Homo sapiens: one gene and its partners. The protein of the gene in region 3 interacts with the protein of the main gene of each other region in a pairwise test. Each region holds a gene or a part of one and is shown on either strand. Other genes may lie near its edges.

The links.
Region 1: the proteins of TMEM45B (region 3) and TSPAN33 interact in binary tests that used the Homo sapiens proteins (3 or more experiments, as listed by UniProt).
Region 2: the proteins of TMEM45B (region 3) and CDS2 interact in binary tests that used the Homo sapiens proteins (3 or more experiments, as listed by UniProt).
Region 4: the proteins of TMEM45B (region 3) and SMAGP interact in binary tests that used the Homo sapiens proteins (3 or more experiments, as listed by UniProt).

Annotation. Positions count from the first base shown.
Region 1 is NC_000007.14:129,140,284-129,147,727, reverse strand, and holds the start of TSPAN33 (tetraspanin-33), read right to left. Parts: upstream 3,022-7,444; 5' UTR 2,748-3,021; coding exon 2,646-2,747; intron 1-2,645. UniProt on the Homo sapiens protein: Part of TspanC8 subgroup, composed of 6 members that interact with the transmembrane metalloprotease ADAM10.
Region 2 is NC_000020.11:5,129,993-5,137,016, forward strand, and holds part of CDS2 (phosphatidate cytidylyltransferase 2), read left to right. Parts: intron 1-7,024. UniProt on the Homo sapiens protein: Catalyzes the conversion of phosphatidic acid (PA) to CDP-diacylglycerol (CDP-DAG), an essential intermediate in the synthesis of phosphatidylglycerol, cardiolipin and phosphatidylinositol.
Region 3 is NC_000011.10:129,853,843-129,860,522, reverse strand, and holds the end of TMEM45B (transmembrane protein 45B), read right to left. Parts: intron 5,914-6,680; coding exon 5,707-5,913; intron 4,816-5,706; coding exon 4,631-4,815; intron 3,211-4,630; coding exon 3,065-3,210; intron 1,950-3,064; coding exon 1,838-1,949; 3' UTR 520-1,837; downstream 1-519.
Region 4 is NC_000012.12:51,267,406-51,274,995, forward strand, and holds the start of SMAGP (small cell adhesion glycoprotein), read right to left. Parts: upstream 3,011-7,590; 5' UTR 2,851-3,010; intron 2,806-2,850; exon of another isoform or gene 2,654-2,805; intron 1,912-2,653; 5' UTR 1,874-1,911; coding exon 1,840-1,873; intron 1-1,839. UniProt on the Homo sapiens protein: May play a role in epithelial cell-cell contacts. May play a role in tumor invasiveness and metastasis formation.

The DNA of each region.
Region 1 (7,444 bases), on a different chromosome or scaffold from region 3:
ACACAATAACCACTGCCATGCGGCAGCTCCAGAAGCCGGCCAGAGCATGCACTCTGCCTGCAAAGGGTGTGGGCTGACCATCATCTCATCCATAGGTGCTTCCTGGGCAGAAGAGCAGAATTTGATTAGGATGGTGGAAGTCTACAAAAAAGAAAGCATGGGAACCAGTCCCTGAAGAGGAGCTAGGAAGAAAGATGGCCCCCTGATCTGGGGAGGCAGCATTTTCTCTCCAGCTGCTCTTGTATGAATATACCTGTGCAGCACTGGGTTTGGGGGAGAAGGGACATTCAATAACACCTGAAAAGTACTGTCCCCTAGGAAGGGCAATCAGGACACAGGGAGATTCATCCTTAGATCCAGCTCTAGGTCTTGAAGAAAGAAAACAGTCCCCAAAATGATTCATTCATCCTTAAATAGTTCACTGAGGCAGAAATTGTTTCTCCTTTAGAGGAGAAAGATTAAGGTCAGAGAGACAGATACATTGGCTTAGGGTCACACAGTAAGTTGGTGCCAAAAAGATGCTGAGCCTCTTGTCTTTCAGTGTGCTATTTCTAGAGCCTCTGATTTTTTATGAGTCTACTGTAGGGCCAAGAAGGGGCTCTATTCTAATTTGGGGTGGTGCTAGCTTGGCCACCCACGTCTTCTGACCTTGAATGAAGCATTTTTACCAAGGTAAATGGGTCTGTGGAGCCAAACTCTCTCCTGGCTGAGATCTCTCAAAGTCGTTTGTCCGATAAAAGGGGGGTAGGGTGGAGGTAGGGGGTAGGGAAGCTCGAGAAAAAAAAAATGACCAGGAACACAAGTGTAACAGATGCACCCAGCTGTTGTCACTGGCGAGCACAGACAAGGGTGAGGTACCAATGGCTCCAAGGGAGACAGTCTCGGCAGATAAAGGAAGTCAGAGTGACGACCTAAAGTCCCTGAAATGCTAGTGCTGGCTCCGAGGATGTCACGTCACTGGCCTGGCACACTCAGTGAGCACAGAGACTTCACTGATACTTGCCCCTAAGTGGGGAGTCTCTTAGTACATCCCCCAGCACTGGTAGAGTGGTAAGGGATTTTCTTGTGTTTTTCCCTAACCTCCAGCTGAAGCAGAACCTAGACTATGGGAACTTGGGTTGACTGGTTAACTACTAATACTGCCCATACCCCAGCTATAGCAGCAGCCATCTGTGCTGAGGACTTCCCCCAGCGGCACTGTGGTTCAGTAGAAAGGTCACCAGACCAAGCCTGCTAACCAGCTGTTGGACCTTGGACAAAACATTTAACATCTCTGTGCTTTAGTTTTCTACATTTTATAGACATAAACACAGATGCTGGACAAGATGTCTTCTAAAATTTTTTTCCAGTTTTACAACTGAGCATTTGATAGGAGCACAAGTTTCATTTTCCCCAGGAGTAGGATGGCTGAGTGCGCTGTCATCACCACCCTATGGGATTTCTCTCATTTGTCCCAACAGGCCAGCACTTATGGGCTTTGTGTCTGCACCTCACCCCACGGGCCCTGTGAAACCTTTCCAGCAAATGGCTTAGATGTCTGTTCTGCTCCCTCCCCTAGGAAACATATTTTAGACTCAATTCTTCCCTCCTGCAAGTCTGAACTTTAGGTCTCCAGCTGAAGTGGGCAAGGATGGTGGGCTCCAGAAGCAGCAGCTCTGGTGTGGTAGGAGCCAGAAGAGGAGGTGAATGGGGGAAGGATGTCCCTATGTTCTCACACCCCAGGACCTCCAGGACTCTCTAGCCAGGAAACAGGGTCGAGCTGGCATTGCATGATCTGGTTCAGCTCAATTCTCAGCTTCAGCAGTCTTTCTGCCACCCCTGATCACACTGGGTTGGATTTGTGGGGGAGGGAGTCAAGGCCTGCAGACATGAACATACATGCTTAGGTCGGTCAAGTCAACAATGAACGGCAGAGTGGGATGGGAATCCAGGTGTCCGGAGTCCCAGCCCAATACTTTTTCCACCCCAAGCAGAAGATTCTGAAAGGACCCCTGGCCCTCCGGCCCAACACGGGGTCCTGTTTAAAGACACTGGTGATTGCCAGGCTCCAGGGGTGAAGTCTGGTCCTGAGAAGGGTGGCAGGGAGGGGACAAAGTTTGGGGCAGTGCTGGGATGGGAAAGACATCTGCACCTGGAGGCCATTCTTCCTAGACTTTGGGGGGGTGGAGGTGGGGGTAGATGAGGCCTGCAAAAGGAAGAGATGATGCCAGTAACCCATCCTCTCTGAGGTGGTGGAGAGAGAGGTTTGGGTTTTTCCTTCCTCTTCTTTCTTTGCCAGCCGGGCCTCCAGGCCCCCAGGCCTGAAAGTCAGCCGCCACCCCCGACCCCCATCATGAATGTGTCAGTGGGTCCGCCTTGGGCCAACAGGCTCCCTCAAACCCACATTTCTAGCCTAACACAGACCCTCCTCCGACGCCCCGAGAATACCCATCAGTCTTTACTGATTCCCTGGCATACCCTCCTCCCTACAACGCCCCCTGCAGACGCGGCGTCCCCGGGGTGTCCCTCCCCAGGATAAATTCCCCCAAAGTGCCGTCAGCCCAGAAAACTCGGCAGTGCGGCTCCCGCGCGTGGGGCACCCCGGGCCACCCTTCCACCCCGCGGGGGGACCCCGCCGCCCAGGTGCCCTCGACCCCGAGACTCACCCAGAAGAGCATGTTGAAGAAGAAGAGCAGGTATTTCACCAGCGGGCTGACGAAGGAGAACTCCTCCCCGGAGGCGGCCGGCGCCCGGGGTCTCCGCGCCATGGCCCCGCCGCCGCCACCGCCCCCGGGGGCCTATTTCCCAGCGGCTGCCGGCCGGCCTGTGTGCCCCGCGCCCGGGGGCATGAGCCGAGCCGCGCCGCGCAGGAGCCCGGCCGGCGGGGGAGCCTGCGCTGCGGCGGGAGGCGCCCGAGCCGGGGGGCCGGGAGCGGCGCGGGCCGGGGAACCGCGCCTGGAGCTGCTGGAGCCGCGGTGGGCAGCGCGAGCGGACGAGACTCACCCGCGGCCGCAGGACCAGCCCGGCCAGCCAGGCGCCCAGGAAACCCGGCCCGCCCCCGGCCGCTCATTGGCGCGACGGCTGGAGCCCGACTTCCCATTGGCTCGTGGCTGATGTCACTAAGTATCCAGCCATCCCTCTCCACCGAGAGTCGGGGGAGACACCTGTTCTGTGAGGGATAACTTGTTAAAGGGTCAGCGGTTCTGCCTCTCCCCTACCCCTAAGGGAAAGCATCCAGGCTGCAGCTGCTCAAAGGAACAAGAGTGAGGAGAAGGAATGCACAGTGCATCCCACACCCACGTCCTCCGCCCAGCTGCTGTGCACATATGCAAACACACATACATTAAAATCAACAAGTACGCACACCGTGTGTTGAGCAATGCGCCGAAAGCTCTGGGAACGCGGGAGAACAGAAACAATCCCTGGGGGATGACAATAAAATCAGGGAGACAAAACTAACCTACACATAACAATTAGACCAAGGGTAGATGCAATCTTGTTTAGTAACTATACATTTTAAATGCTTATTTCAGAAGCTCTACAACCCAACAGTGGAAATTTGGAAACATCACCGCCAATCCCGCCATCCTAATTCATTGCTGTCTCAATTCCCGCCCCCGCAGCCCCTCTTCCCTTGGTCTACTTGCAGACACCGTTTTTAACATGCTGATCCGGCACACACAGGTTGAGTGCAGCGTAGCTGGCGAATATATTATGCTGGCTACCCTAACTAATACAAGTTGAACCTCGGGGAGGGAATCTGATTCCACCATAATTAGCTGCGTGAAAGCTGCAAGCTACTTAATCTCTCGGAGCCTCAGTTTGTTTAATGTTAAATGGGAGAGTCCTGACCTAGATGGCGATTTGAGGATTAAATGAGATAATGCATGTAGCTCACTTAGCACATGGCTGGCACATGGAAGGCTCATCAAAGGCATTACAGTATTTCGTTTTAGCAGAATTAAGAATCCAGTGTGGAAATATGATAACCGCACAAATAATTATAATACGTTTGGTAGAAGGTTAGTGAAGATAGCGTGGCAAGTGAAATTAGGGGAGGATGGGATTTAGAATAGTAGAGACGGAGGGGAAACATAATCCAGGTGGATTAAAAAAAAAGGGGGTGAACCAAAGCCTGGAGGTGCAAAAGCACGCCATGTGTTTCGTGCAAAATAAGCAGACTGCTGTGGCTGGAGCACAGGGTATGCTTGGAATAGCAGTGGGACATAATGCTGACCGATGCCGTTACATGTGGAATTGTGTTAAAACTGCGGAAGTAATTGAATATCAGATTGGGGAGTTAGTGCTTAATTGACTTGGAAATAAGAGTTTTGGAGAAAAGGATGATGGAAAACCCATGGTTTTCAGTTGGAGTGGGAAAGAGGCTGGAGAGAGAAAGATTTGTTAGAAGCATGCTGCTCATCATCCAGATAATCAGAAATCAGGAACTGATTTAGGAGTAATAGACAGAATAATAGATGGTTAGGAGAGGATAGAAGGGAAGGCATTGGAAAGATAGAATCTCTAGGGCTAGGCTGTGGTGACAAGCAGGCATAACAGGAGCACCAAGAGTGGAGGTTAAAGAAGGCAGTCACAGCCAGGTTACTGGGAGATTACTGGCCCTTAACAGGTTAAGTGACACTGGAGATCAGTTTTAGTATAAAGCAGGTAGGGTGGGCAGAAGTCATTTTCCAAGAGGTTAATGAGTGAATAGGTAGGTGCCATTTTCAGATGTTAGTGCGGGGAGGATAGAGAAATAGACCAAGATGCTGAATGTTTCTATTAGATGATCTTCCAGAAATCAGTTTTATTTTTTTGAAACGGAGTCTCACTCTGTCGCCCAGGCTGGAGTGCAGTGGCCTGATCTCAGCTCACTGCAACCTCCGCCTCCCTGGTTCAAGCGATTCTCCTGCCTCAGTCTCCCAAGTAGCTGGGATTACAGGCGCCCGCCACCATGCCTGGCTAGTTTTTGTATTTTTAGTAGAGATGGGGTCTCACCATGCTGGCCAGGATGGTCTGAACTCCTGACCTTAGGTGATCCACCTGCATGGGCCTCCCAAAGTGCTGGGATTACAGGCATGAGCCACTGTGCCCAGCCAAGAGATCATTTTTAATTGAGACGGGAAGAAGAAGGAATATCACAGTGTCAAGGAAGGAATGGGTGGTGAAATGGAAGCTGTGAACGAAACTGTGGACATCTCTGTCTGGCTTTGAAGGTTATGGGAGCCTTAAGGGACTTCAGAGTGAAGGGAAAGTTCTCTGTTAGCATATAAGAGACCTAACATGTTCGTAGGAAACAAAACAAAACAAAACAAAACAAAACAGTCAAGAGGGATTAAGGTGGATAATGGCTGGAATGAGGTTTTGGAATTAACAGGTAGAGATGGGATTAGCCTTCAAAGTGATGACCACAATGTCCCTCATGTGGAAGTCACGGACGGCATCACAAAGTAGGAAGCCATGCAGCTATAGAACAAAGAATTAGGAAACTCTCTCTGTACTGAGTTGGAACGATCTCCAAGTTAACTCATTACGTTTAAAAAGCAAAATGAGGCCGGGGTGGCTCATGCCTGTAATCCCAGCACTTTGGGAGGCCGAGGCAGCCAGATCACGAGGTCAGGAGATCAAGACCATCCTGGCTAACACGGTGAAACCCTGTCTCTACTAAAAATACAAAAAAATTAGCCGGGTGTGGTGGCGGGCACCTGTAGTCCCAGCTACTCGGGAGGCTGAGGAAGGAGAATGGCATGAACCTGGGAGGCGAAGGTTGCAGTGAGCCGAGATCGCACCACTGCACTCCAGCCTGGGCGGCAGAGCAAGACTCCGTCTCAAAAAAAAAAAAAAAAAAAAAGCAACAAGTGGGACAGTGGATACAATATATCACATTCTGGTTAAAGAGAAAGAGAGAAAACAAAAATAAGGAATAACATTTATATTTGCTTCCCTCTGCCTAAATAAACTCTGGAAGGAAACGTAAGACATTAAGAAAGGAGGTTACATACTGGGATGGTGATGAGAACTGAAAAGAGAGGAGAGAGACTTTTCACTGTGTGCCATTTTATTCTTTGTTTTTTTTTTGTTTTTTTTTCTTTGCAGCATAAAGTGTATTAATGATTCAAAATGAAAAAATTACACAAATTGAAAAATCAAAAAGAATTTAAAAATTGGAAAAATGTATCTTTACTATAGAATGCTACGCAGCCATTTAAAATAACATAGAAAACATATGTACTGACTTGCAAAAAGGTCCATGACATATGAGGTGCAAAAATCAGGTTGTAGAATAAAGTATACAGAGTATCTGACAATCAGTGAATAGTTTCAACTTATTTCAAGTCCTTGGAAAAGGTATTCAGTTCTTTGGAATACATAATGTGGCCATTTAAAATGGAATTCAATGGAAAAGGTATTTCAGTTATGTGGAATATATAATGTGGCCATTTAAAATGGAATTCAAAGCAGAAGTGGTGGCTCATGCCTGTAATCCCAGCACTTTGGGAGGCCAAGGTGGGCAGCTGACTTGAGGCCAGGAGTTTGAGACCAGCCTGGCCAACATGGCAAAACTCTATCCCTACTAAAAATACAAAACTTCGCTGGGCGTGGTGGTGTGCACCTGTAATCTCAACTACTTGGGAGGCCGAAGCACAAGAACTGCTTGAACCCAGGAGGTGGAGGTTGCAGTGAGCCAAGATTGCACCACTGCACTCCAGCCAGGGTGACAGAAATTCTGTCTCCAAAAACACACACAAAAAAAACAAAAGAAAACAAACAAACAAAAAATGGAACCCAAAAAACTTATGTAATAGTATGTAAGATTTTAACAATATAAACATATTCACAGTAAGAAATATGGGCCAATTTCAACAGAGATGAAAAAATATAAAAGTAAAATCAGCTGTGTTGTTGTGACGGGACATGTAGCAATTTTTAGCTTAAAAATATATTTAATATTATTACATATGATTATGAAAATAATTAAAATATTTGAATGGTATCTCTGTAAAGAAAGAGGGTCATGTTGCTGGAGCTAACATTGGCAAGAAGGTATGTGAAGAGAGAAGCAGTGACACGGTGTAGACGAGGAGCTTTAGGAAAGGGGAGTTCTGGGTAGAGCAAGGCAGGAGACTCCAGGCAAGACGGGTCAGCAGCAGTGATGGCTCAGCTCGTGTGGCTGATGACTGTGGGGATCCCAGTTGGCCAGGCTGGTGATTTCCTTCAAAAAGCATGTAGACCAGGCGTGGTGGCTCAAACCTGTAATCCCAGCACTTTGGGAGGTTGAGGTGGGTGGATCACGAGGTCAGGAGTCGAGATCAACCTGACCAACATGGTGAAACCCTGTCTCTATTAAACATACAAAAATTAGCTGGGCGTGGTGGTGCACGCCTGTAATCCCAGCTACTCAGGAGGCTGAGGCAGGAGAATCGCTTGAACCTGGGAGGCGGAGGTTGCAGTGAGCCGAGATCAG
Region 2 (7,024 bases), on a different chromosome or scaffold from region 3:
ACAGAGTTTCGCTCTTGTTGCCCAGGCTGGAGTGCAATGGCACAATCTCGGCTCACTGCAACCTCCACCTCCCGTGTTCAAGCAATTCTCCTGCCTTAGCTTCCCCAGTACCTGGGATTACAGGTGCCTGCCATCACGACTGGCTAATTTTTTTGTGTTTTTAGTAGAGACGAGGTTTCACCATGTTGGCCAGGTTGGTCTCGAACTCCTGACCTCAGGTGATCTACCCACTTTGGCCTCCCAAAGTGCTGGGATTACAGGTGTGAGCCACCGTGCCCGGCCCATAGTAAACTTTTAAAAAATCCTGATTTATTCTGTTTCATAGTTTGGGAAACACCTACTTCCATGACTTTGGCTTTGCCAATATTCTTGTGTTAGAACCCAAGGAAATTAGAAATAATAAATTTTAAGGAAATGCATTATGAAACAAGAACTTTTTAATTTCATAGTAGAAGAATCCAGTGAACAATTTTCAAGTCAGTGCTTTAAAAGCTCTGGAATAGGCTGGGCGCGGTGGCTCACGCCTGTAATCCCAGCACTTTGGGAGGCTGAGGTGGGCAGATCACCTGAGGTCAGGAGTTCGAGACCAGCCTGACCAACGGGGTTTTAGTAGAAACCCCGTCTCTACTAAAAATACAAAATTAGCCGGGCGTGGTGGTGCATGCCTGTAATCCCAGCTACTCAGGAGGCTGAGGCAGGAGAATCGCTTGAACTTGGGAGGCAGAGGTTCCGGTGAGCCGAGATTGCGCCGTTGCACTCCATCCAGCCTGGGCAACAAGAGCCAAACAACGTCTTAAAAGAAAAGAAAAGCTCTGGAGGCTGGGCGTGGTAGCTCACGCCTGTAATCCCAGCACTTTGGGAGGACGAGGCGGGTGGATCACGAGGTTAGGAGATCGAGACCATCCTGGCTAACATGGTGAAACCCCATCTCTACTAAAAATACAAAAAATTAGCCGGGCGTGGTGGTGGGCGCCTGTAGTCCCAGCTACTCGGAAGGCTGAGAGGCAGGAGAATGGCGTGAACCTGGGAGGCGGAGCTTGCAGTGAGCCGAGATGGCGCCACTGCACGCCAGCCTGGGCGACAGAGCAAGACTCTGTCTTAAAAAAAAAAAAAAAAAAAGCTCTGGAGTAAACTTGAAAGATTCCTCAAAATGTTACAGTTGCTTAACTGCTGTGGCAAAACTGTCTTGTAAATAGAAAATCATTAGTATCAAAATAATCTGGAGCATGTTTATTTATAAAAGTCAGAAGGTATTTTGTTATATTTAGCATCTGAGAATGGAATTTTCAAAGCCAATTGCTAATAAAGGAAATGTTCTCCTCTGGGAACTGTGCTTATAATTTTAAAGTCCCAAAGCACAGTATAGTTGCCAAACTAAGAAACTTGGAGTTTAGGCTTTGGGAATGATCCTCTTCCTACCCAACCATATTTTTCTGATGGAGCTTAGGAAAGCAAAGGATGAGATATGGTCTGAAAGATTGGCATCTTAAAATTTATGATTGAGTTGGCATTTCAGGAGATTTTGTTTCGGAAGTTAGCGTATAGGTTCTGGGGTTTTCTGCTTTACTTAATTGCTGAAGTGCTATTTAAATTAGAGCTTTACTTATTTCAAGGCTTCCTTTCTAGATAGATGAAACCCATATGGAGAGGAAATAGTGACATCATTTAGAAAGGGGAGTTTAAATCTTAACTGAAGATAGCGTGTAAGAGCAGGGGCTTGGGTCAGTTACATCTACCTTGAGCCTGGGCTCCGCCACATAAAGGCTGTGTAACTTTGAGTAGATCATGGAAGTTGTGGCAGCCTCAGTTTGTCCATCATTAAAATGGGGGTCATAAAATTGTATGTGCTTTACAGGATATTCATGTGGATTAAACGTATGTATGGGCTGACAGCAGAGCTTGTCACATAATATGTTAGCTATGTTGCTACTGATTAAAATAGATTTTTATAGAAAAAACTTTAATATTCATCTTACACACTTGAAAGGTGATTAAATCTTCAAGTTATATATATTTGTAGAACCTATTCATATTCATTACCTTTTAAGGAAAGTTTTATAGAAAGGACTTAGCCTTCTATGACCTATCTTCGGTTTATTTTCAATTTTAATTTTTTTTTTTTTGAGATGGAGTCTCGCTGTGCCACCCAGGCTAGAGTGCATTGATGTGTTCTTGGCTCACTGCAGCCTCTGCCTCCTGGGTTCAAGTGATTCTCCCATCTCAGCCTCCCGAGTAGCTGAGATTACAGTCACATACCTCCACGCCCAACTAATATTTTTATTTTTAGTAGAGACAAAGTTTCACCATGTTGGTCAGGCTGGTCTCAAACTCCTGACCTCAGGTGATCCACCCGCCTTGGCCTCCTGAAGTGCTGGGATTACAGGCGTGAGCCACCGCGCCCGGCCTCTTTTTGGTTTATTTTCTTGTGGAATTTTTCAGTACTCCGAATCACAGGCTTTAACTGTAGAAGGACCACTGAACACTGTTGTATGCAATTACCTTCTTTTATAATTAAAAATGGTTTTCAATAGACTTTGAGATTGAACTACTCAAATAAAATATTAAAGAACTATAACTACTTCAGGTATAAGAGAAATGCTTAATTTTTTTCAAGAAAATTTTTTTATGTTGAGAAATAATTTAGGAATTAAAAAAATCAGTAAACCTTAACTATGATTCCCAGGCTTAACAGGGAGAGGAGGTGAAAGATTATTTTCTCATATAACCAATTATTTTATGTTTCTTATTTTTGTTGCTCAAACAGTATGATTTTATTTTAAAAACTCAATTACTGCATGATTTTTGACTATTTAAAATTAGTTTTTCCAAAATCTATTTTTAAAAAATGTTTTGTGTTTGCCCAGGTTAACATGGTATTTCATTAGAAGAATTTTTATCGGCCGGGCGCGGTGGCTCACGCCTGTAATCCCAGCACTTTGGGAGGCTGAGGCGGGCGGATCACGAGGTCAGGACATTGAGACCATCCTGGCTAAGACGGCAAAACCCCTTCTCTACTACAAAAAAAAAAAAAAATTAGCTGGGTGTGGTGGCGCCCGTAGTCCCAGCTACTCAGGAGGCTGAGGAGAATGGCGTGATGGCGTGAACCCGGGAGGCGGAGCTTGCAGTGAGCCGAGATCCCACCACTGCACTCCAGCCAGGAGGACAGAGCGAGACTTCATCTCAAAAAAAAAGAATTTTTATCATCTTTAAAAAATGTTAAATTGCTCTCCTTGGTTGTTAGGACTAGAAGGGACTTTAAAGGTGTTTTTTATTTTTAGGAACAGGGTCTCACCTTGTTGCCCAGGCTGGAGTGTAGTGGCACAGTCATAGCTCACTACAGCTTTAAACTCCTGAGCTCAAGCCATCCTCCTACCTCAGTCTCCTGAGTAGCTCAGGACTACAGGCCTGAGCCATGGCACCCGGCTTGAGGTAGTTATTTTATAGAAGAGGATGCCACAGCTCAGAGAGTTTAAGTTATTAGCTCAAGATGACTTAGTTGGTTAGATACAGAATGGTTCGTATTATGAAGGTCTTCTATTTATTTATTTTTTGAGACGAAGTTTCGCTGTTGTTGGCCCAGGCTGGAGTGTAATGGTATAATCTCAGCTGACCGCAACCTCTGCCTCCTGGGTTCAAGCAATTCTCCTGCCTCAGCCTCCTGAGTAACTGGGATTACGGGCATGCCACCACGCCCAGCTAATTTTGTATTTTTAGTAGAGATGGGGTTTCTCCATGTTGGTCAGGCTGGTCTCGAACTCCTGACCTCAGGTGATACTCCCGCCTTGGCCTACCAAAGTGATGGGATTACAGGCGTGAGCCACCGCGCCTGGCCTATGAAGGTCTTCTAATTCCCGGTTGTTGTTTTTTATTTTTTTCTCATAGAATTAATTTACAGACTTTAAAAGCTTCTTTATTGATTAACATTGATAGATATGATACCCAAATGTTACCTATTTTTCTTATTTGGCTACAAAATCAAAAAAATACTATATAAATCTTTCAAAATGTTAAATGTTAAAAAGGTCTCAGAGTAAATGTGGAGACTCTTTGCAGAAAAAAATGTATGTGTTTTATAGAGAAAGTTGATTAGTTTCAGTTTTCCTGGTTATCGGATGACTGTGATTTAGACATTTGTGAGCACTTTCCTGGGAGTGGCCACTCTGGTATCCTTGAAAGGCACTCCCGGCGCAGTGCTTGAAGACCACAAGGCGCCTTACCCAGGCAGTGGGTGAGGGTGCTTGGAAGAAATGCTTTCCAGTTAATGACTGTTAGCATGAGAACCATTTGTTCTAGTAATAAGCAGTCATTCAGTATTCAACGCTTCTCTTTAGAACATTCACTGACTGTAGGGTCTGCTATGGACGGTGTCTGTATTTCTGAGAGGGGCTGGTGTTATCAGTGTTCATAAGGATATTATTCAGAATTTTATTGCCTGTTTTGACTCCACATAATCAATTTTTTCCCTACTGATTTAAAGAAATAATACAATCTTTTTTAAATCAATAATATTTAAGAGTTTTATTTTTATTTATCTATTTATTTTTTGAGATGGAGTTTCTCTCTTGTTGCCCAGGCTGGAGTCCAATGGCGTGATCTCAGCTCACTGCAACCTCTGCCTCCCGAGTTCAAGTGATTCTCCTGCCTCAGCCTCCCGAGTAGCTGGGATTACAGGCGCCCACCATCACACCCAGCTAATTTTTATATTTTTAGTAGAGACAGGGTTTCACCATGTTGGCCAGGCTGGTCTCAAATTCCTGACTTCAGGTGATCTGCCTGCCTTGGCCTTCTACAATGCTGGGATTACAGGCATGAGCCACCGTACCCAGCCGACTGCATATTTAAATTGGTAAGGTAGAAAATGAGCATGAGAGTCTAACAGCTGATGGATATGGGAACATAATACTTGATAAAATCATTCAGAATATGTTTGATAAACAAGAAGATTGTATAAAACCTGCACTGTCCTACTAATGTAAAGCATTTCTCCTCCCTCACTTTATTCTCAACCTTACAACTGCCAGAAATTATATAATCTTGAATATATTTGAGAAACTCTTTTTAAAATGAATCTTGTAACTAATTTCTTTTTTGAATTTATATATATAAATATATACATACTTATTTTATAATAGAGACAGGGTCTTAAAATGTTGACCATTGAACTCCTGGGTTCAAGCGATCTTCTCGCCTCGGCCTCTCAAAGGGCTGGTACAGCGTGAGCCACCGTGCCCGGCCATTGTAACTAATTTCACAGGGCAGATAATCATCCTTTAAACTGTTTGAAAAGATTTGAGTGTTACTGTTTCTGGTTTTCACACTTTTCCATCTTTTCTAGGATCCACGTAGGTGGAGGAGATTCCTCTCCACAGTTTGTTAAGCTACATTCTATGTTGTTAAGGTCTCCCAGCCCTTCTGGACTGGCACTAGAGGCTGTTGGGGGTGAAAAAGTACAGCTGTTTGTGTGTCATACTGCCTCTGGTTCAGAAAAGAGACGGACACTGACTCTTCACTATTAATTTTGCCAAAGTCTCCTTGAAAGAATGCTAATTTGTTCCTGGCACTGGGCAGGGTTCCTGCCTTCCAAGTCTTGTCATGTGGTGGTTACTTGGCTGGGGTAATAGTGAGGCACCCCCTCCCCACCCCCACGTATGGTCCCCACCGGGCAGCTTCCTATGCCAGTCACTGATATTTGTTCTCATGTTGTTTGCCCCAACAGTAGGGATGGCATTGAGCCCACTAAGTTGACTGACCTTTTGAAGAAAGTTAAACTTTATGGTGTTATTTTGAGTAGGCAGTCTGTGGTGCAGAATTTGTAGGCAGCAAAGGGTATTCTGTGAAGTTTCCTTTCTCCCGCCTGCCTCTCCCCAGGGACAGCCTCATGCCACACTGTGGTTCTCATGAGCACTGCTGTCTGTGTGGAAGGACCTGACCTGTCCTACCAAAGTCAGACATCTTTTTGATTTGTTGTCTTTGGCAGAAGCTCCTTTGTATTAAGGTCTCCATAGGGCCAGCTTGGGGCTTCTCTGTAAAGACTTTGCTGAGGTTTTGAGAGTTCCTGGGACTTGGGATTTACGGGCAACACTCTCTGCCCCTGGGTCTCTGATGTGGAGAGGATGTCTGCCATTGACACCGAACCCCTGAGTGGGCAACTCTCAGAGCCATATCTCCACAGTCCATGCCTGGCTAGTCCTGTGGTTTCAGTGGTCTACAAGACATTCCTAGGTGCATGCCCTTCAGTCCACACAAACTGACTTTGTCTCAAATCTGAATTCTCTCATTCTACTCTTACCACCCTCCTTCAGTTTCTTTCTTCTGCGATAAAATCCCAGATGACTCGGTTACTCAGGCTTGAAATCTCCTATTCCTTTGTTCCCGTGCCCAGGGCAGGATGCAGATTCTAACCAGGTGTGACTTGGAATCCTTATCTGTTTGTTGTTTGTTGTCTGTTTGTTGCTCTTGGAGACTTCAACATTTCAGGACTGCAGTATTGTAAATGCCTGCAGTATCCTAAATCCGAATTCCTTACCTCTCCTGGAATCCTTATCTGTCTTTTACTCTTTGAGATTTCCCAAATTTCAGGATTTATTGCTTGCCTTATTGTAAACCCTGTGAATTGAGCTCCCTCCTGTTAGGATTTGCTCTAGGTCCCTCCTAATCCATCTTGTTCTTTGTATCTTTCAGGAGTTCTGAAACTGCCCTAATAATTATTGGGGGGGTGGGGTGGAGTGATAGAATTCTGGCTCTTTTTCATAATGCTTAAACTTTAAGATCCTTTGTAGTCTTCTGTCTCTCATTTCCTTCCAATTCTTGTTTTAGGTTCAGGGGATACATGTGCAGGTTTGGTACACGGGCAAATTGCACATTGCTGAGGTTTGGTGTACAAATGATTTTGTCACCTAGGTAGTGAGCATAGTACTAGATGGGTAGTTTTTCAATCCTCACCAGCCTCCCACTCTCCACCCTCAAGCCCTGGTGTCTCTTGTTCCCCTCTTTGTGTCCATGTGTAGCTCCCAGTTCACTCTGC
Region 3 (6,680 bases):
TGCAACCTCCGCCTACTGGGTTCAAGTGATTCTCCTGCCTCAGCCTCCCAAGTAGCTGGGACTACAGGTGCTCACCACCACACCAAGCTAATTTTTATATTTTTAGTAGAGACAGGGTTTCACCATGTTGGCCAGGATGGTCTCGATCTCTTGACCTCATGATCCACCCGCCTCGGCCTCCAAAAGTGCTGGGATTACAGGCGTGAGCCACCGCGCCCTGCTAGGCCAGCCAGCTTTTCTGAAAGACCTCATGCTCTTACACATTACAAGCGGTTGTGAGAATCAAATGAGATAGGGTGCATCTCAGAATCTGAAAAATACTATGCACACGGAAAGTATTATTTGGTCTCTAAGGCCCATCAACTTGGTCCTAACTCACTTTTATCAGTTTGTAGAACTTAATCTTTTTAAGTTCTCCGTATTTTTTTATGCTTTCATTTTTTAATGTGCTACCCTCTCTACCTGGGATGTGCTTTTTCTACAGGGCAAGCTCTGCATTTCCCCTCCTCTCCTTTTTCTCATCGTGGTTTGTACTTGCCTCTCAGCACCCATCACACTGGATGTAACTACAGGCATGTCTCTCCTGTTTGACTGTAAACTCCTTGCTGGACACATATCTCAGGAGTCCTTACAGCCATTTCAGTGCTGTTGCAAAGTGGATATTTAATAAATATTTGTTGAAGGAAGTCTGTTTGCTTGTTTTTGAGACAGAGTCTTGCTCTGTCACCTAGGCTGGAGTACAGTGGCATGATCTGGGCTCACTGCAAGCTCCCCTACCGGGTTCATGCCATTCTCTTGCCTCAGCCTCCCGAGTAGCTGGAACTACAGGCGCCCGCCACCACACCCGGCTAATTTTTTGTATTTTCAGTAGAGACGGGGTTTCACCATGTTAGCCAGGATGGTCTTGATCTCCTGACCCCGTGATCTGCCTGCCTCGGCCTCCCAAAGTGCTAGGATTATAGGCGCGGTGAAGGAAGTTTTTTTAAAAAAAGAACAGATCCAGAAGCAAGATTAGGGTATCAAGATTTTACATTACTAATTCTGAATTCGTTATCCTTTGCTTTCAGCCATATTAAAACTGAAAGCCTTCCATACCTGACGTTTTTCTATCTCATTATACAGCTTTCCTGTCAGATCTTCTTTTAGGGTGACTTTGAAGAATCAGAACATCAGGGCTCCAACTCTCAGTAGAGCCAGTAACCAGCTTCCTGATTTAAAAAAAAATCACCTTTGGCCTAATTTTGTCACTTATAAACAGTGGTATTGCAGTACCCTGGTATGATTAGTTATGATATGTTTAACAATAATTTTAAAATACCAAAGCTTGTGAATTATTTTACTTTCAAAAAATATGTAAGTTAGAATTGTAATTCTAAAGGCACTGTCGTTTGCTTACACATTCTAACATATTTCTAATAAGAAAGTACCTGCTTTCTTAAGAGAAAAAGGGATAAGTTACCAAAAGCAGCACGTTCTCCTGGGCTCATACCCCGGATTCATCCATGAGGCCACTTCCATTGTAAAGCTTTTAGCATCTCTTGATTTCTCTTGACACTGAGGCACAAAGGCCTGCTACTTATAGGCATTACTTCATTTTTCCTTATGAAGGGTACTATACCAACACAGACTTTATAGTATGTTTAAAAATCCCAACTGCAAGATACACAGGATGCTGTAGGCCTGATTTCCTGTTGTAGAACCTCCAGCCCTGTGTTGAATGAGGAGGTGCAAATATATAGACCCTTAAGATCAGACCACAGCAGGCATTCAGGTGGAGGGGATGAACTCCATTCATTCCAGCTGTGCAGTGGGACATCTGCGCCCTCCGCATCTCGGCTCATTCCTCATCTGAGCCACTCAAGAGGGCGGTCTGGTAAGTGTCATCTGAATTCAGCTTCTGAATTCCAATGATTTCTCCCCTTCCGTGTCTCTTCATCCGAGTCAAAAGGCTTTAATAGAGAAAGAGTAAGAGCCAATTAGCCAGAGATTCCCTTAATCCATTACCAAGGATGTGAAGGCATCTACTGATTCTTAAACTATTTTCTTTATATTTCTATCAAATACTGTGATTACATGTCTATAAACTAGACTTCTTAGGAAATATTCATCAGTAGATAAAGGGGCGATGGTGGAAACTACTGAATGTCATAATTGAGGCCAAGGTCTTGCCTATCTTGGTTTACTGTTTCAGTGGCTGGGCAGGAGAACTAAAAGAAACTGACTTGAGCTCCCTTCTCTTTGGTCCGTGTGGAACTCTTTCTGGATGAAATAATGGCAAAAATCACCGTTACTTTTGCACCAACCTAATATTCTGCTTGGGATCTAGAGAAATGACCTAGAAGAAAAGGTAGAGGCAGCCGAACAGCAAATAGAACTGGTAATACCATTTGCTAAAATTCACCCTTGCACTGAGAGGCTCTGCCATTTATTAGTGGGGTGACCTTGGTCAAGTTACTCAGCTTTTTGAAGCCTTGTTTTCTCCACCTGTAAAAAATAACAGTGCATACTTCATAAAGCAGTGAAGATTAAATGGGATAATAGAGTGTAGCTGCTTTCCACTGGGCCTGGGGCGCAGCAAGTGCATAGGAGTCCATAGCTGTTATCTGTATACCTCTAAGGAGCCTTCAGTGAGGGGTGGAGTGCAGTTTGTCTTAACATTCTGCTCTGGTTTATTTTTTGACTGTCACATCATTTCTGGGAAGCAGGGAGGGCAGGTCTGGAAATAAGATGATGGGTCCAGAATGAACCCTTTACGTGGGGACTGCCATCCAGTACTGATTCCCATTTCAGTATTCCCCACCACACCATAGGCTTAAAATCTGTGAGACCTGCATTTGAAACCTGGGTCCCTCAGGTTACTATGACTTTGAAAAGCCCTCAGGTCATTAAACTTTGAAAAGCCTCATTCCCCTTGTTTGCAAATAAGGGTAGTGATACCTTCCCTGCATGAGAGTACCTTGCACAGAATTTGGCCTGTAGTCGGCACTCATCAGATGGTGCAAGTTAATCACATCAGTCCTGCTTAGAGTTAGGAGGAAAAGCTTCACTGAAGTCTCAGACATACCAGTAAACAAGAGAATAGTTGACGGCCACAATGCTGAGGGCAGCCAGGTAGTGCCAGCAGAAGCACATGGTGATGAACATGAGGTTGGCATCATCCTTCTGGTCCCATTCGGGTGTTCCAAAAGGTGGGAACAGCACAAACCCAATCTAGGGGATTACAGAGAGAAGTTGGTCTTGTGGTTGGTCGTCCTGAGAAGCAATCTAGCCGTTCTCCTGTGGCCACCGAAGTGGCCCATGTGTGACCACCGCCTCATAGTTCCCACACTTCGTTAGCATAGAAAGGCCTTTTCACATAGAAAAATGGCTCTGGCCAGGTATGGTGGCTTACGTCTGTAATACCAGCACTTCGGGAGGCTGAGGCAGGCGGTTTACAAGGTTAGGAGTTCAAGACCAGCCTGACCAACATAGTGAAACCCTGTTTCTACTAAAAATACAAAAAATGAGCTGGGCATGGTGGTGGGCACCTATAATCCTAGCTAACTGGGAGGCTGAGGCAGGAGAATTGCTTGAACCTGGGAGGCGGAGGTTGCAGTGAGCCGAGATCATGACACTGCACACCAGCCCGGGCCACAGTGCGAGACTGTCTTAAAAAAAAAAAAAAAGCCGGGCGCGGTGGCTCATGCCTGTAATCCTAGCACTTTGGGAGGCTGAGGTGGGTGGATAATGAGGTCAGGAGATTGAAACCATCCTGGCTAACACGGTGAAACCCCATCTCTACTAAAAATACAAAAAATTAGCCAGGCGTGGTGGCGGGCGCCTGTAGTCCCAGCTACTTGGGAGGTTGAGGCAGGAGAATGGCGTGAACCTGGGAGGTGGAGCTTGCAGTGAGCCAAGATTGCGCCACTGCACTCCAGCCTGGGCGACAAAGCGAGACTCTGTCTCAGAAAAAAAAAAAAAAAAAAAAGGCTTCAGCTTAATTTTGGTTGTATAGGCTTACTTAAAAACACAAGTCCAGGTGCAGTGGCTCACGCCTATAATCCCAGCTCTTTGGGAGGCTGAGGCAGGCGGATCACTCGAGTTCAGGAGTTCGAGACCAGCCTGGCCAACATGGTGAAACCCTGTCTCTAAAAATACAAAAAAATTAGCCAGGTGTGGTGGCGGGCACCTGTAACCTGAGCTACTCAGGAGGCTGAGGCATGAGAATCGCTTGAACCTGGGAGATGGAGGTTGCAGTCAGCCAAGATTGCGCCACTGCATTCTAGCCTGGGTGACAGGGTGAGTCTCTCTCAAAACAAACAACAAAACAGAACTTCAGGGCCCACGTTTCCAGTGGACAGTTTAGCAAGCAGAGCCTGTGAAAGGCATCAGCCCATCCTCTGGGGAGGGCAGCTGAACGTCACCGTGCATGCTTTAAATTTTGGATTGCTAATGCATCCTCTGGATGTTAATGGATAAAACTAGGAGTCAAAGGGCGGGCATGGGGGGAAAAGGGTCATCTAAACCCCTTTGCATGGCATGTTAATGCTGCATTTTCAGACCCCATATTCTCGTCAGGGATTTCTCTGGGATGCGCTCGGTGGGGGCTTCTCCATCCAGACCAGCGAGGGGCCTGGGTGTGGAAAATCACCTGCCAGAACCAGGTTCCCTGAAGAATGATGAGACTGGTTCGGAAAAGTTCCAGCACAATGTGGTCCCGGAAGATCACCTCTAGGGAGATACTAACACACCCTCCGAACAGAGCATACAGCAGGAGTGAGTGGATGTGCTGGTCCAGCGGAGGCCGGTTGTGGACGTGGTAGTAGAAGAGGAAACCTGCCACAAACCAGATGGCAGCTGTCAGGGCTACGCTTGGCTTTCACCATCACCGAAGTTTCCTCCTACACCTGTCTCAGCTAGGTTCTTCAGCATTTAGGCAGTTAGTACATAACATTACAGGCAGCAAACAGATGCGAGTAAGTGTATTTCATGAGTATGTTAGGAGTATAAAGCAGCAAGGGATTGTATCTTAAAATCTCTATGGAACCCATGGTGGGGTCAGTATAGGATGGGCCGGCTGAAGCATGTTGCTGATTTGTAACAGACTGTGTGTGTATACTTGAAATTCAGTTTTGCCCTCAACCTTTTTCGACTCTTGCTGAGGTACAGAAGTGAGGTTGTTAGATGACAAAATGTATTTTCATACCCCAGTCAGTGTGAGTCATACTGGCAGCGCTCCCCTGGCAGTGGAGTGGGTCTCCTGAGGCTTGTGATGGAGGCAAGACGGTACCTCCCTGGGCAAAAGGTAGAGTGTGGTTTCGCTTAACCAAAGGGGTGTATCCCCTGCATGGTGGCATTCAACCAGCTGGGGCATTGTGTGTACCCGCATGTGTATGTGCGCACATACGTCCACACCGAGGAATATGCACGTGTGTGAGCAGGGGCTGCTGGCGGCAGTGGGAAGGCGAGGAGGACTCCTGCAGTGTTAGCCGGGGCTTTGGTAGCTGCCTTCAAGCCTCAAAGCTTTCATGAGCTACTTTAGGGAATATGTCACCTGGCCCATCCAGAGTAGAGCACTAGGTCCTATTCAGGTTTTGGCAGTCCAGAGATGTGGATTTTCTGGGGGAGGTTATTATATTTGCAACATTTCTGATATTTTGTACTCTGATCCTTCATAAATATGACTTGTCAGGCTCTCCTTCCTCTCCATCCGTTCCACAAAATTACCTTCCATGAATACTGCCACAGCCATAACCAGTCTGTCCACCCCCAAGGGAACGTGGCTGACCAGATAGGTGAGCATGTCAACAATTCCTGAGACTGCAAAGAATAGGTACATGGTGCTGTGCTGCCAATTCATTAACTTTATCCAGTGGTTCTCATGGTAGAGGTGCAGGTGGGGCCCATCCGGAACAAACTGCTCTGCCAGGATCCCTGCAGGGAAATGAGGATGGATGTTTTAGAGGGAAGAGTAGCTCTAAGACAAATAGGAGCAAGGAATAACCCAAAGGCATGAGCGAAGCGGAGATGGGGTGAGGTGAGGGTGGCCCGCGGGTCAGCAGAGCTACTTTGCTGCCTCAGGTGCAGCTGCTTCAGTATAAAGTAGGGTGTGTGCTGAGTCACCTGTGTAGACATCTTGCCATTGTTGTTCCTTTTAGGGGTTTGGGGTTGAGGGTAGAAGAATCAATGAACACAACCACACACACATAGATCCCCAGGAGGTTTGTCCAGGAGCAGAGATGAGCAAGACATCATCACTTAAGTCGGAGTGTGGCTGATAGAATAATCTCTGGGCTTCCCTGCCAAGTGAGCAGTGAAAGAAATCCCAGACAGAAACAATTAGGCTGAAAGCAGAATCTGAGCAGAGACACACTGGTAATGAAGATACCTGTACGTGCCAAGGGAGGGAAGCGGCTCCCAGGTGCGTGTCTGCAGGGCTGATTTTGAGTGCGTGTCCTTCCTGGGCACAGAGCCAGCTCTGCAAGCCCTGCGCCCCTCCCAGCTGTGTGTTTTAAAACACCGGGTAAACAAGGCAGAGGCCCCAGGATGTGGGCCAGAAAATGACGAAACTGCGACACAGGATAGCTCTTAGTTCTTATCCCTTCTACTTTTATCAGCTAATTTGGAAGGCAAAAGATTTGTCTTTATGCCTGGTACCCAAAGTGTTCTTGGGGAAGCCTAGAAGAAATCCTCCATGATGA
Region 4 (7,590 bases), on a different chromosome or scaffold from region 3:
TTTCAAGGGCAAGACTCAGATCCCCTTCCTCACCCACCCATGAAGCCTTTGCTGACCTATTCCCCCCCCCCACTCCGTGTCCCCCTAACTCTTTTTTTTTTTTTTTAAGACAGGGTCTTGCTCTGTCACCTAGGCCGGAGTGCAGTGGCATGATCTCGGCTCATTGCAACCTCCATCTCCTGGGCTCAAGGGATCCTCCCACCTAAGCCTTTGGAGTAGCTGGAACCACAGGTGTCTACCACCAAGCCCGGCTAATTTTTAAATTTTTTTGTAGAGATGGGGTTTCGCCATGTTGCCCAGGCTGATCTCGAACTCCTGAGCTCAGTCTGCCTGCCTCAACCTCCCAGAGTGCTGGAATTACAGGCGTGAGCCACCATACCTGGCCATTTCTCTCTTTTATCTCTTCTCACCAGACAACTAAAAGTCTGAATTGTGTGCATTACCAGTCACAGAGGACACTGTCTTAGACTTCCACTGGTGGTGTCACTCACCTGTTTCCACATCAGTAAAAGCAGAGAATGCCTGTCCTAATGACAAATGTGACTGTGTATAGGAAGACAAAGGTGTATAGACCAACCAAGGGTTTGTTCCTCTCTCTCCCTAACTAGCACATGCTGAAAACAGTCAATAAATAACTGATAGTTTGTCCGGCCCAGCCTGATGATGAACTAAAAGGTGGGCATCCATTCTCAGAGTGCTGAGCAGTAGTGCCCGGCCTCCGCACACCTTCAGGGAACAATGGGGTTTTGATGCTGGGTCTGTATCACCAGAGGAGTGGAATGAGAAAGCCAGCAAAATCACTTTCAAGGGAAAGATGGGTTTCTAACAAGTACTCAGTGCTAATAACCAACGTGACTGAGTGCTTACGAGATACTACACACTCTTCTAGGTGTTTTATATGGGTTGTCTCATTTAATCTTCATAAATCATAAGATAGGTACTATTTTCCCTATTTTGTGAATGATGAAACCGGAGCTTAGAGGTTAGCAATACTATCTTTAGCAGGTTTTTAAAAAATGATTTCCCTGTTATCTTTGAAGATTCCTTTTCCACATTTAATTACAAGGGTTTCTGCTACATTCTTTGCCATAGCTATAAATTATTAGACAGATGAATGTAAAGCCCTTCCTTTAGGCTTATACAATAATCTTCCTTCCTTCCTTCCTTCCTTCCTTTCCTTTCCTCCCTCCCTTCCTATTTTTTGAGACCGGTCTCACTTTGTTGCCCAGGCTGGAGTGCAATGGCACGATCTCGGCTCACCTGTGCTTCCCAGGTTCAAGCGATTCCCATGCCTCAGCCTCCTGAGTAGTTGGGATTACAGGCGTGCACCACCACGCCTGGCTAATTTTTTTGTATTTTTAGTAGAGATGGAGTTTCACCATGTTGGCCAGGCTGGTCTCAAACTCCTGACCTCAGATGATCCGCCCACCTCGACCTCCCAAACTGCTGGCATTACAAGCATGAGCCACCACGCCCGGCCTCTTTCTTTCTTTTGAATTAGCAATGGGGTCTCACTATGTTCCCCAGGCAGGTCTCAAACACCTAGCCTCAAGAGATCCTCCTGTCTCAGTCTCCCAAAGTCCTGGGATTACCGACATAAAATTATTTGATAAACCGAGGTTACAAAGATTTGTGAAGTCACCATGTCCATGTGACTTCAGATTAAAACCGTACTAAGGGGCACACTCTAGTTCCTGCTTCCTCCCAGGCCCTTCCTGTGTGAGGCAGGCAGAGAGAGGTGGGAGTCTTCCCACCTGGGCTGAGGCTTCCAGGACTGGTCTGGGGAAGGGGATGTTGAACAATTCTTTCTCACTGGGATTAGGAAAGGCCTTCACCTACCTCTTGGAGAAGGAGTAGTCAGGAGGCTGGTCATTGTCACTAGTGGTTGAGTTTCTTGGAGAAGAGGCAGATCTGTAGGAAGAGGGGCAAAGACAGGAATGTAGCGGGTGGGCCCCTATGGCTTTGAGTCCTGGAAGTCCCAGGAAAGCCTCTGGTGCCAGGTTCTCCCAAGTCCCTTCCCCTTTTTCTCTTGTCCTCTTCTGGTTTCCCTGAATATCTCCTCAGGCTCCAGGTACCAACAGCTCTCCACAGGAGCAGGTCTGAGGCCGCATGCAGTTTGACGGGGTGTTACCTTCATACGCTCTCTCCAGGTCCTTTCAATGGGCCACCAAATTTACTTAGATCTCTCAAGGCCTGAGAAAGTCAGGCAAAGGTTCGCAAATCAGCAGCGAACCCAGTTTCGCCAAAGCGCGGTAACAGGTACCCTAGGGTTCCACAGCTAGGAGTTCTGGTGACGCCATCCACCAGGTGTCAGGAGAGGGCCGGGAAGGTCAGGACCCGCGCCCAGGCTCCAGAGCGGAGTGGGCGCAGCGCAGTAGCCGGGCCGGGACCGGGAGGCGACGGCCGTGGGCCGCCTTCTGGCTCGCCTCGGACGCTGGGACGCCGGACTGGCCGCCCCCTCCGGGCCTGCTTTCGCCGTCCAGGGCGCGGTCCGCGCACAGCCTGCCAAGCCTCACTGGGCCCCAGCCCGCGCCCCGCGCCCCGGAGATCCTCGACGCCCCTGCGAACGCGGGGTGGACGCGACGGGCTGGGTTGGTCCTCGCCCCGCGGCCCCGCCCCCGTCCCCGCCCCCGCCCCGAGCCCCCCGCGTTACCAGCACCCCGCGGAGCGCGCTGCGCTGGGGGCGGCCGGTGCGTCGGGGAGCGGCGTTCCCAGCCGCCGCGACCCTCTGCCCCAGCGGAGCGCTGAGCTTCGGCCGCTCCGGGTTTCGGTTCCTGCCACGGCCGAGGTGGCTGCGGCGAATGTGGGCGACCCGGCTCTCCGGCGCCCCCGCCCTTCCCTCGTGCTCACCTTTCCAGTCGGACGGGCTGCTGGTGAAGGGCCGGCGCCGCTCCGCGCGTCCTTTTGAACTCAACGGGGGCGGGCACCGCGGAGTCGCGGAGGCCAGCAGAGGCCGAACGAGGACCCCGAGCGGAGGAAGCCGCGGGTGGCGCGCGGGGTTGGCGCAGAGGCCGGAGGGGGTGGGGGGCAGGCCGACGGGGTGGGACAGGAAAAGCGGAGAGAAACCGCCCTCTGCAGGTCCCCTTGGCTCCCCCGGGAGGAAAGGCAGCCTGCCCTTCTCCGATTGTCACTTTACTCTCCATCCGGAGCCGCTTCCTTTCTCGCCGCGAGGCTCGGGGTTGGGGGGGGACCAGATTGGAGCCGCGGGCTAACTGGGATCCGTCCCATTTCCCTGGGCTTGACGTTCTCTGAATTTTTAGCTAATGTGGAAAGTTACATTTATTTGCATTTGTTTATCGCTTGCTCACATAGGTCTGTGTCCTGAAGCTTGGCAGATGAGCGAACTTAGCCAGCACACCCCCGGCCGTGAAGCAGGGAGGTGAAGCGGGGAGAGCAACGAGCCCCACCCGGGTCTTGCCAGCTGGACGTTCTTGTGGGGCAGCGTTGAGCAGCGGTTAGGAGTGCCGTGGACTTTGGATTCAAACAGCCCCAGCTCTTCTGCTTGCTAGCTGGGTGACTTTGGGCAAATTAACATCTCGAAAATCTGTTTCCTCATTCCTAAAATGCGGGTCTGAAAGTGATCATGCCTGTAAAGCCATCTCATATCCATGGTTCTAGAAGCATGGTGAGCACCTCAATTTGAATAATCAGTGCCATGCTTTAGCTACCTCTTGACTCACTCGTTTGTGGCAGGAAATGTTCCCAAATTAATCAGAAGAATTCAGTGACTAAGAGGATGTAATAGTATATAGCGCAGGCACTGGAATCAGCTCTGCTGTGTGATCTTGGACAAGCTGCTTCTGTTCCGTTTCTCTTATCTGGGGCAATACCTGTCTGAATAGAGTGACTGTTGGGACGAAATAGGTTAGTAAATATGTACTGTAAGGCATTAGAACCTTGCCTGGCACATAGTAAGTGCTCAATAAACGCTAGGTCTTGTTACCTTGGCTTCCCGTTTAGGATTGGAACCCTTGTGATTATTCTTTCCCTCCCAGTGATAGACTTCTGTGCTTACTTCGCACTCCTAGGCGTTCTGTAGGTTTGTAAACCAGTATTTATACAGAAATACTTTCTGTAGAAAGACAGGCATCATCAGATTGTGCATGTTAATCCGGGAACAGACCGAAAGGGAAGGTCTCAGAGGAGAGAGGCATAAAGGGAGAAAACAAAACAAAGTCACAAGCAAAGCAAGAGTAGTTGCTTTTATTCCTAAAGTGTTCATTATAAAAGAAACCAGAGGGCAGGGCACTGTGGCTCCCAGCACTTTGGGAGGCGGGTGGATCACTTGAGGTCAGTAGTTTGAGACCAGTCTGGCCAACAAGGTGAAACCCTGTCTCTACTAAAAATACAAAATCCGCTGGGCGTGGTGGCACACACCTGTAATCCCTGCTACTCTGGAGGCTGAGGCACGAGAATTGCTTGAACCTGGGAGGCAGAGGTTGCAGTGAGGCGAGATCACACCATTGCACTCCAGCCTGGGCAACAACAGCAAAACTCCGTCTCAAAAGAAAAAAACAAACACAAATACAGGAGGAAAACAAACAATAAAAAAGTGATGAAATTCATTTTATATAAATATATTGTGAGAAATATATGTAAATATGTGCATGGGAAAATGCCAATCCAACCAAGAAAGGCAAAGAAAGTGATATGCCAGCTATGCATATGTAACTTAATAAAAGAAAGGTGAGCCTGGCTTGTCCTTAGATAAGAGAATATCCAAGAGAAAAGGAAATTAAAATCCTAGAGGGCTAAATCCAAAGGAGGACAATTGCTGGCATTGACATACTTCTAGCTGTCCACCTTGATCATGAATTCCAGGAGAAGTTCAGATCGTTCTTGGACCTGGGTCTGTCTCTTTCACATTTTCTATTATGTGTTGAAGATTGTTTAGAACTATAGACTCAGCCAGGCGCGGTGGCTCACACTTGTAATCCCAGCACTTTGGGAGGCCGAGGCGGGTGGATCACAAGGTCAGGAGTTCAAGACCAGCCTGGCCAACACAGTGAAACCCTGTCTCTACTAAAAATATAAAAATTAGCTGGACGTGGTGGCAGGCGCCTGTAATCCGAGCTAATGGGGAGGCTGAGGCAGGAGAATCGCTTGAACCCGGGAGGCGGAGGTTGCAGTGAGCCGAGATTGTGCCACTGCACTCCAGCCTGGGCGACAAAAAAAAAAGAAAAAAAGAACTACAGACTCAGAGGCTATCTGGCTCAACTGACTGACTCTACTGATTTGCTGTCACTTTCACAATTTCGACAGTTGTTAGTAATGTTCTTTCAATAAGCATCTTTTTTTTCTCTTTAAAATGTAACTGGTGGGGCGCAGTGGCTCACGCCTGTAATCTCAGCACTTTGGGAGGCCAAGGCAGGCAGATCACCTGAGGTCAGGAGTTCGAGATCAGCCTGGCCAACATGGCGAAACCACGTCTCTACTAAAAATACAAAAATTAGCTGAGTGTGGTGGCGGGAGCCTGTAATCCCAGCTACTTCGGAGTCTGAGGCAGGAGAACCTTTTTGCACCCTGGAGGTGGAGGTTGCAGTGAGCCGAGATTGCACCAACGCACTCCAGCCTGGGCAACAGAGTGAGACTCTGACTCAAAAAAAAAAAAAAACAAGTAACCTTACACCTATAATCCCAGCACTTTGGGAGGCCACAGTGGGCAGATCACTTAAGCCTAGGAGTTTGAGACCAGCCTGGGCAACATGTTGAAACACTGTCTCTACAAAATACAAAAAAAGTTAGACAGGAGTCGTGGCATGCACCTGTGGTCCCAGCTAGTCAGGAGGCTGAGGTGGGAGGATCACTTGAGCCCTGGGGGTGAAGGCTGCACTCCAGCCTGGGAGATATAGCAAGATCCTTTCCCCTCAACCAAAAAAAAGTAACCTTAGGGAGGGAGGTGGGGATGATTAATGGGTACAAAAAAAAAAAAAAAAAGAATAAGACCTTAAGACCTACTATTTGGTAGCACAACAGGGTGACTATAAATAATAACTTAATTGTACATTTAAAAATAACTAAAATAGTGTAATTGGATTGTTTTTAACACAAAAGATAAATGCTTAAGGGGATGGATACTCCATTCTCCATGATATGATTTTATTATGCATTGCATGCTTATATCAAAACATCTCATGAGGCCGGGCATGGTGGCTCACACCTGTAATCCCAGCACTTTGGCAGGCGGATCACAAAGTCAGGAGATCAAGACCATCCTGGCTAACATGGTGAAACCCCGTCTCTACTAAAAATACAAAAAATTAGGCAGGCGTGGTGGCAGGCACCTGTAGTCCCAGCTACTGGGGAGGCTGAGGCAGGAGAATGGCATGAACCCGGGAGGCAGAGCTTGCAGTGAGCTGAGACTGTGCCACTGCACTCCAGCCTGGGCAACAGAGCAAGACTCTGTCTCAAAAAAAAAAAAACAAAAAAACTCATGTACCCCATAAATATATATACCTCCTATGAACCCACAAAAATTAAACATTAAAAAAATAAAAATAGGCCAGGCACAGTGGCTCACGCCTGTAATCCCAGCACTTTGGGAGGCCGAGGCGGGCAGATCACAAGGTTGAGAGATCGAGACCATCCTGGCCAACATGGTGAAACCCCAACTCTAATAAAAATACAAAAATTAGTCGAGCATGGTGGCGCATGCCTGTTATCCCAGCTGCTCAAGACGCTGAGGCAGGAGAATCGCTTAAACCTGGGAGGCGGAGGTTTCAGTGAGCAGAGATCACACCACTGCACTCCAGTCTGGCAACAGGGTGAGACTCCATCTCAAAAAAAAATAATAATAAAAATGAATAAAATGTAACCTTAGAAGGTTTGCTGATACTTGATTTTTTTTTTTTTTTTTGGAGACAAGAGTCTTGCTCTATCACCCAGGCTGGAGTGCAATGGCGTGATATCGGCTCACTGCAACCTCCGCCTCCCGGGTTCAAGCAATTCTTCTGCCTCAGCCTCCCAAATAGCTGGGATTACAGGCGTCTGCCATCAGGCCCGGATAATTTTTTGTATTTTTAGTAGAGACAGAGTTTCGCCATGTTGGCCAGGCTGGTCTCGAACTCCTGACCTCAGGTGATCCACCCGGCTCAGCCTCCCAAAGCGCTGGGATTACAGGCATGAGCCACCACGCCTGGCCTGATACATTATTTATTAATTTTTTTATGTAGTCACATACCTCATTTTATTTTTTGAGGTGGAGTCTCACTCTGTCGTCCAGGTTGGAGTGCAGTGGCTCCATCTCAGCTCACTGCAACCTCTGCCTCCCAGGTTCAAGTGATTCTCATGCCTTAGCCTCTGGAGTAGCTGGGATTACAGGTCCACACCACCAGGCCTGGCTAACTTTTGTATTTTTAGTAGAGACAGGGTTTCACCATGTTGGCCAGGCTGGTCTCAAACTCCTGACCTTGAGTGATCCACCTGCCTCGGCCTCCCAAAGTGCTGGGATTATAGGCATGAGCCACTGCTCCCAGCCAACATACCTCATTTTAAAAGTGTAGTCATACAGAAAAATAGATCCAATATGCACATGCTCAGCACCCAGTTTGGTGTAAAATAAATACTATTGTAAGCAGTGTGCGTATTGTG